Homo sapiens: one gene and its partner. The protein of the gene in region 2 purifies or fractionates together with the protein of the main gene of each other region. This does not show direct contact. Each region holds a gene or a part of one and is shown on either strand. Other genes may lie near its edges.

Region 1 (3,333 bases), on a different chromosome or scaffold from region 2:
TAGATGATGCTGGTGATGCAAGCTGGCTTCTCTTGGCCAGCCTACCTACTGCTGGGTAGTGTTTATGCCCCATGGCCAGACACTGAAGAGGGAGACAGGAAAAGCACATATCCACACCTTCCACCCTCAGACATTCCTGTAACTTGAGCTTATCTAAGGGGGCATTGTCATATGTCAGGGGTTCCCAAACTACGGTCTTCAGAAACACTGTTTACCCTCCATAGAGGTTGTGTGCATCAGCCCAGGCAGAATCCTGCTTCATGAAGGTGTTTTCCTAATGCATGTGTGCATGGACCTGTCTCATGCTACACTGCAGGGCTGGTATTCAGCACCAATAGTTATTGTTGGCTGCTAAAATAGCAAACTACTCAAAATGGCAGGTAAATAGCCCCAAGCCCCTATCCCCAGTGTCCTCCCACTACTCAAACCCCTCTCCCTCAGATCTGCCCCCAGTCCAGTATCTACCTGCACTGTTCAATATGGTAACCACTGACCACATGTGACTATTTACATACAGTTTATTAAATGCAATTAAAAGTTCAATTCCTTATTGCACTGGCCACATTTCAAGTGCTTAGCTGGCACATGTGGCTAGTGCCAGTGCCTACTGTATTGAACGGTACAGACAGAGCATTTCATCACTCTAGAAACTGGATGGCAAGTGCTACCCAGCACAGCAGCCGTGAGGACCTTTCTTGGGCTGCTGACTGTTCTGTCTGTGACTGTGTCATATCAACTGACTTTTTGGAGCAGCATCTGTGTGTTAGCAGGACACATCACCTATGGCACATGCCTCAAAACTTAACACTCCTTGGGCCCCAGGAGCCCAGAATCAACTGACAGCCCTGGTGATAGTCAAGGACAGGTGACTATGTTTATATAAGCATGTTCCTATGACAGGAATGTCCCCTCCTTCTGCCATTGTCTATGTGAACATAAACAAAAGGATTTTTTTTTTTTTGAGACAAAGTCTCACTCTTGTCACCCAGGCTGGAGTGCAGTGGCACAGTCTCAGCTCACTGCAACCTCCATCTCCCGGGTTCAAGTGATTCTTGTGCTTCAGCCTCCACAGTAGCTGGGATTACAGGCGCCCGCCACCAGGCCCGGCTAATTTTTTTTTTTTTTTTTGAGACGGAGTCTCGCTCTGTCGCCCAGGCTGTAGTGCAGTGGTGCAATCTCGGCTCACTGCAAGCTCTGCCTCCGGGGTTCATGCCATTCTCCTGCCTCAGCCTCCCGAGTAGCTGGGACTACAGGCACCCGCCACTAGGCCCGGCTAATTTTTTATATTTTTAGTAGAGACGGGGTTTCACCGTGTTAGCCAGGATGGTCTTGATCTCCTGACCTCGTGATCCGCCCGCCTCTGCCTCCCAAAGTGCTGGGATTACAGGCGTGAGCCACCGTGCCCGGCCTAATTTTTGTATTTTTAGTAGAGATGAGGTTTCACCATGTTGGCCAGGCTGGTCTCAAACTCCTGACCTCAGGTGATCTGCCCACCTTGGCCTCCCAAAGTGCCAGGATTACAGGCATAAGCCACCATGCCCGGCCAAATGAAAGGTTTTTTTTTTTTTTTTTTTTTTTGGTGCCCGGGCTGGAGTGCAATGGCATGTTCTCGGCTCACTGCAACCTCCACCTCCCAGGTTCAAGCGATTCTCTTGCCTCAGCCTCCTGAGTAGCTGGGATTACAAGCACCCGCAACCACGCCCAGCTAATTTTTGCATTTTTAGTAGAAATGGAGTTTCACCAGGCTGGTCTCGAACTCCTGACCTCAGGTGATCCACCCATCTCGGCCTCCCAAAGTGCTGGGATTACAGGTGTGAGCCACCGCGCCTGGCCGAAAGGATTTTATAATAGATGCATGTCCCTGTTCACCCCAAAGTCAAGTTCAGGCGGGATGCCAATAATAAGTCCATCAGTGTTTCCATAAAAAGTAAAATCATCTACAAGTTAAATTTCTCTCTAAAAAGGCCACACCCCTTATAAACAATTTACTTTTTATAAAAAGACAAATGTACATATTTACACACGTCCTTATGTGTTCACACATGACTTAATGGTTAGATGACATTTCCAATTTTAAGTCATACCAAGGCGCTCACACTTCCCTCCCTGGGCCTGTTGAGGGCTGCTGGGGCTTGAGGGGGTGGTGGGCGCCGAGCAAGGCACTGTATAAATAAATGCAAAGGCCAAGAGCTCGGGGGAAATGTTAGTGTACACCTCTGATCAGAAATGTGGCAAGATCCACACGAAAAAGTGCCAAGTTTTTTTCCCAAGCCCCTCAGCCAAAGCAGGGAGCAGGGTAGAGCTCCTCTGAGGCTGAGGGAGCATCGCCCCGAAGGACCCCACTTTCCTTCACATTTCACTGGCTTTGGAACAGTCCCCAGGGCTCAGCTGAAAAGGGGGTAGTTCTTTGGGAACGAGATTCATTTAGTGCAATTTTCTCTTAGTGCAGAGCCAGCCCTGGGATTGGTGTTATGCTTTTCTGGGGTCACTGGTCTGTTCCCCTAGGAGCCAGCCAGTGACAGCGAGACCCTCTCCAGGCAGCTGGGCTCAGAGGAAAAAGCCAGACACTGACTCCTGTCCAAGTCCCTGACCTGATACACTGGTCTCAGAACCTCATCTTCCCAGGAGGCAGGGCCAGCTTTACACCACAAGAAAAACCCAGACACTGGCCTGCCAGGCCCTGAGAGGTCAATGACCCAAGGAGGGAGGCCCCATCCCCACTTGGCAGTGGGGTCACACTTGGCTGTTGAGGGGCCCACAGAAGTCCAGCTTCTCTGCACCATATCCACCATGATGCCAGGTCCTGCTTGCCTAGAGGAATAAGAGGGGCCCAGGGGCCCTGCTACGGTGCACAGGGAATGGCCTGGATGGAGGGCAACCGGACTGGGGTCAGCAGGCTGTCCAGCCAGGTGGCATCCATGTTCTTCAGATCTGTGAAGACACGCTGTAGACTCAGCCCAATATCCCCTAGAAGATGTGAAGAAGGTTGTATGAGGGTAGGGGACGGTGGCATCAGGTGTGCTTCCCCCTACCCCTGAAGGCCATAGACATGGCCTCTGCTCTTCCCAGCACAGCAGTAAACATCCACTCAGCTTCAGGCAAACCTTAAGGCATGGCAGCCGTAGCTAATTCACAATGTGTCAGTACCCCAGATGCTTTACCGCCCTGCTCCCTGGCCCTGCCCCCAAGCTTTCTCCATCCCTACGTGGTTCTCCCTCATCTAAGAAGCCATAAGGATCCAGGGCCTTCTTACCCCCTGGGCTGTCAATTTCTGGCTCCTCCTTACAGCTAAAGTCTCCATAGACAGAGGTGGGCTGGACTCCAGGTTCATTG
Region 2 (3,500 bases):
CGTTCACAAGGTTGTTGACGGGCAGAGTGAGCGTCACATTGCCGCCCCCACCTGTCAGCTTCACCACATTGGCCCCGCTCTGCACGGGGGTGGTGGTCGTACTCGACTTCTGGATGGGGGCTGGCTTGATGGGGACAGGCTTGTGACTGGACGGTGAGGGGGTGATGATGGCTTGGTTGGTGCCAGGGATGATCTGGATCTGGTTGGTGAGATTGGGCTGTACTTGGATGGTTTGGGAATTGCTTGCCTGAATCTGAGGGACCGCCTGGTACTGGATATTGGCATTTGATCGGGTCCCTTTGTTGATCATGGTGGGATTCTGGATAGCGAACACCAGCTGCCCTCCAGGATAGGAGGCGCTCAGTTGTGACCCCTGAATCTGAAGTATATTTCCTTTGGAGGACAAGATTCCAAAGCTATTCTTGCCGGGGCTGAGAGGGAGAGGGGCAGGTTTGATAGGGACAAGTTTCCGCGGTGTGGGCTGTGGGGGAGCAGGAGGTGTCACAGCAGCTTCAACTGCTGGAGGGCCAATTTTGCTACATGTTGCAGCAAGCAGGGCTAAGGGAGATGGCTGGGAGTCCTGCAAAAAAACAGCAGAGAAAAGGAGTGAGACAGGAAGGCCCGCTGCCCGGCCGCCTCTGTCCATGATCCTCTCCTCCTGGCGGCATTCCACGCCAGTCTTCCCCACCTCCGGGGCAGGCATGTTGCCAGTACCCTCCCCTGCTTGGCTGCTGTCTCCCCTTCTCTACTGGTTTCTCCATTAAGTGAGGGAGAAAAGGTGGGCAATGTCTTTCTCAGGAAGGAACCCCTGGCAGCACCCCACAGACAGGGTAAACTAACAGCACGAGCTGACTTCCTACTCTCCGCTGGCCTTGTTTCTAAGGACAGTGAAGCATGTTTGGCTCTCAGATGGAGTTTGTTAGCCCACCCCAGGGACTGAGGGGTCCCTGATTGCTCAACTGAGGAAAGGAGGGAGGAAAAAATGGAGGGGCAACAGGAGGAATAAATACTTCAGTAAAGTGCTTTTTAGTACTCGGAACATGTAACTTTATAGACTGGGGAGGGCTACACTTTCGAGACAATGAGAAAGCCTCTGTTTTCCTTTTCCTTTTTTAGTGAGGTCTGGTGGAAGGAACACAGAGTTTAATCCTTGTTTTTCCCCCTGGCCCAACTGCGGCACCTTAGGTAAATGGCCATAGTTTCTCAGTAAAGAAAATGTGGCTAACTGAACCTTCCCCAGTCTCATAACCTAGGGTATTTATAGTGAGACAGTGAAGAGAGAGTGTTTTCGGTGAGTCTGTCCAGGATGCTGCAGCCCCAAGCCCTCGGAGCCCACTGCCTACTCGCCTGGGTGGTGGAGGCGGCAGGCTGCAGGTAGTCACTGGGACTCACAGCAGCAGTGGCAGCCATGCTGGTCTGTGGATCTGTTGGAAGAAAAGAGATGGAGTAATGTATAAAATGCCCAAAAAGAACGCAAGCCCACTTGCCTCAGATTTTCTTTTTTTCTATTTTTTTTTTTTTGAGACGGAATTTTTGCTCTTGTTGCCCAGGCTGGAGTGTAGTGGCATGATCTAGGCTCACGGCAACCTCCCCCTTCCAAGTTCAAGCAATTCTCCTGCCTCAGCCTTCTGAGTAGCTGGGATTACAGGCGCTGCCACCATGCCCAGCTAATTTTTGTATTTTTAGTAGAGACAGAGGTTTCACAATGTTGTCCAGACTGATCTCGAATTCCTGTCTTCAGGTGATCCACCCGCCTTGGCTTCCCAAAGTGCTGGGATTACAGACATAAGCCATTGCACCCAGCCAGATTTTCTTTTTGCCTCTATTTGTTGCTGCTTCTCCAAGGGAAGTTAATGACTTTTCCCCAGACTTACCCACCCTGGGTTGATAGCCTTACATCTATTTCAGTAGATTACTTTCTCCTCTCCTCTCCTCAGACTCAGCCATCTGAGGCTGTGAGGACAGCTGGTCCTGCTGTCGTTGGACTGCCCCCTCCAGCCACCACAGAGTCTGAGATAACACAAAAATAACCAAGATTATACCAGGACTCTCTTCTGTAACTCAGCTATGCCCTCTCTGCTGGGCACTGCTGGCTCTCCATAGCTAAACTGGAACTCCTCTATGGTGGGCAGGGGGGAGCTCCCCAGCTAATCCTCTAGCTCAAACTCAAGCCTCCTGTTCACTCCTGCTGTAGACAGATGCCAAAACTGGGAGGGAAGTATCGCTCAGCCAAGATTTCTGACAAGGAGGACACACCTGCTCCACTGCCAAGTCTTGGGTGTTTTATGCTCAGCCTTCACCACAAAGGCCGTTGTCCCCAGGCAGCATATACAGCACATGGGTCAATTCTTTTTTTTTTTTTTTGAGAAGGAGTTTCACTCTTGTTGCCCAGGCTGGAGTGCAATGGCACGATCCTGGCTCATTGCAACCTCCACCTCCCAGGTTCAAGTGATTCTCCTGTCTCAGCCTCCTGAGTAGCTAGGATTACAGGCATGTACCACCATGCCCAGCTAATTTTTGTATTTTTAGTAGAGACAGGGTTTCACCATGTTGGTCAGGCTGTTCTCAAACTCCTGACCTCAGGTGATCCACCTGCCTCAGTCTCCCAAAGTGTTGGGATTACAGGCGTGAGCCACCATCCCTGGCCTCATGGGTCAATTCTTTACTTGAATTTACGCTTTTACATAGTACAATAGGCACGGCCCCACAGGCATCAACCAAGACTCAGTAGAGCTAATGACTAACTGGATATAACAAGGAGAATGAAAACAGAGTAAATTCTATTTTTGTTTAAATGTGTATATATTTCTATATATGAATATAATCAAATAGGAAAAAGTCTTAAGCCATTATCTCCTAGCGGTTGAGTTTTGTTTGACTTAAACTTATTTTGCACCTTGGTTTTCTGTACTTTTTCATTTTCCCATGATAAATATATTCTACTGTACTTTTTTTCTTAAATAAAGAAAAATAAGGTTGAGGAAGTAATGAAGGGACTCTCTACTGTGCACTTAAGTCATCCAAAAGAGGCTAGGTACAGTAGCTCATGCATGTAATCCTAACACTTTGGGAAGCCGAGGTGGGAAGATCGCTTGAACCCAGGAGTTCAAGACCAGCCTAAGCAACACAGTTAGACCCCGTCCCTAATAAAAATTTTTTAAAAAGAAAGAAACACAGTATCAGGAAAACGAAAGTCATGAGAATTTTAGGAGAAAGAATCTATACCATCTTAAAGTGCATAAATCACTAAGGAAAAGAACACCAGGCAGAGTCAGACTTCAATCCTGGACCTCTGGAAAGCAGATTTCAGTAAGTACAGAAATAAGAGGGGTATTACTTTAAAGACTAAAAGAGACAAAAAGGCTCAGGATGCATTCTGCTTGGAAGGCTGAGATGGAAGGATCACTTGAGGCCAGGAATTTGAGGCTGCAGTGCCCTATTATCACACCTGTGAATAGCCAAAACACTCCTGCCTGGGCAACATAGCAAGACCCCATCTC

Evidence for each region.
Region 1: the proteins of SP2 (region 2) and IRF1 purify together in Homo sapiens (affinity purification with western blotting; one study listed by BioGRID). This does not show direct contact.

Annotation. Positions count from the first base shown.
Region 1 is NC_000005.10:132,481,109-132,484,441, forward strand, and holds the end of IRF1 (interferon regulatory factor 1), read right to left. Parts: coding exon 3,254-3,333; intron 2,968-3,253; coding exon 2,843-2,967; 3' UTR 501-2,842; downstream 1-500. UniProt on the Homo sapiens protein: Transcriptional regulator which displays a remarkable functional diversity in the regulation of cellular responses.
Region 2 is NC_000017.11:47,913,236-47,916,735, reverse strand, and holds part of SP2 (transcription factor Sp2), read right to left. Parts: intron 2,011-3,500; exon of another isoform or gene 1,875-2,010; intron 1,425-1,874; coding exon 1,348-1,424; intron 581-1,347; coding exon 1-580. UniProt on the Homo sapiens protein: Binds to GC box promoters elements and selectively activates mRNA synthesis from genes that contain functional recognition sites.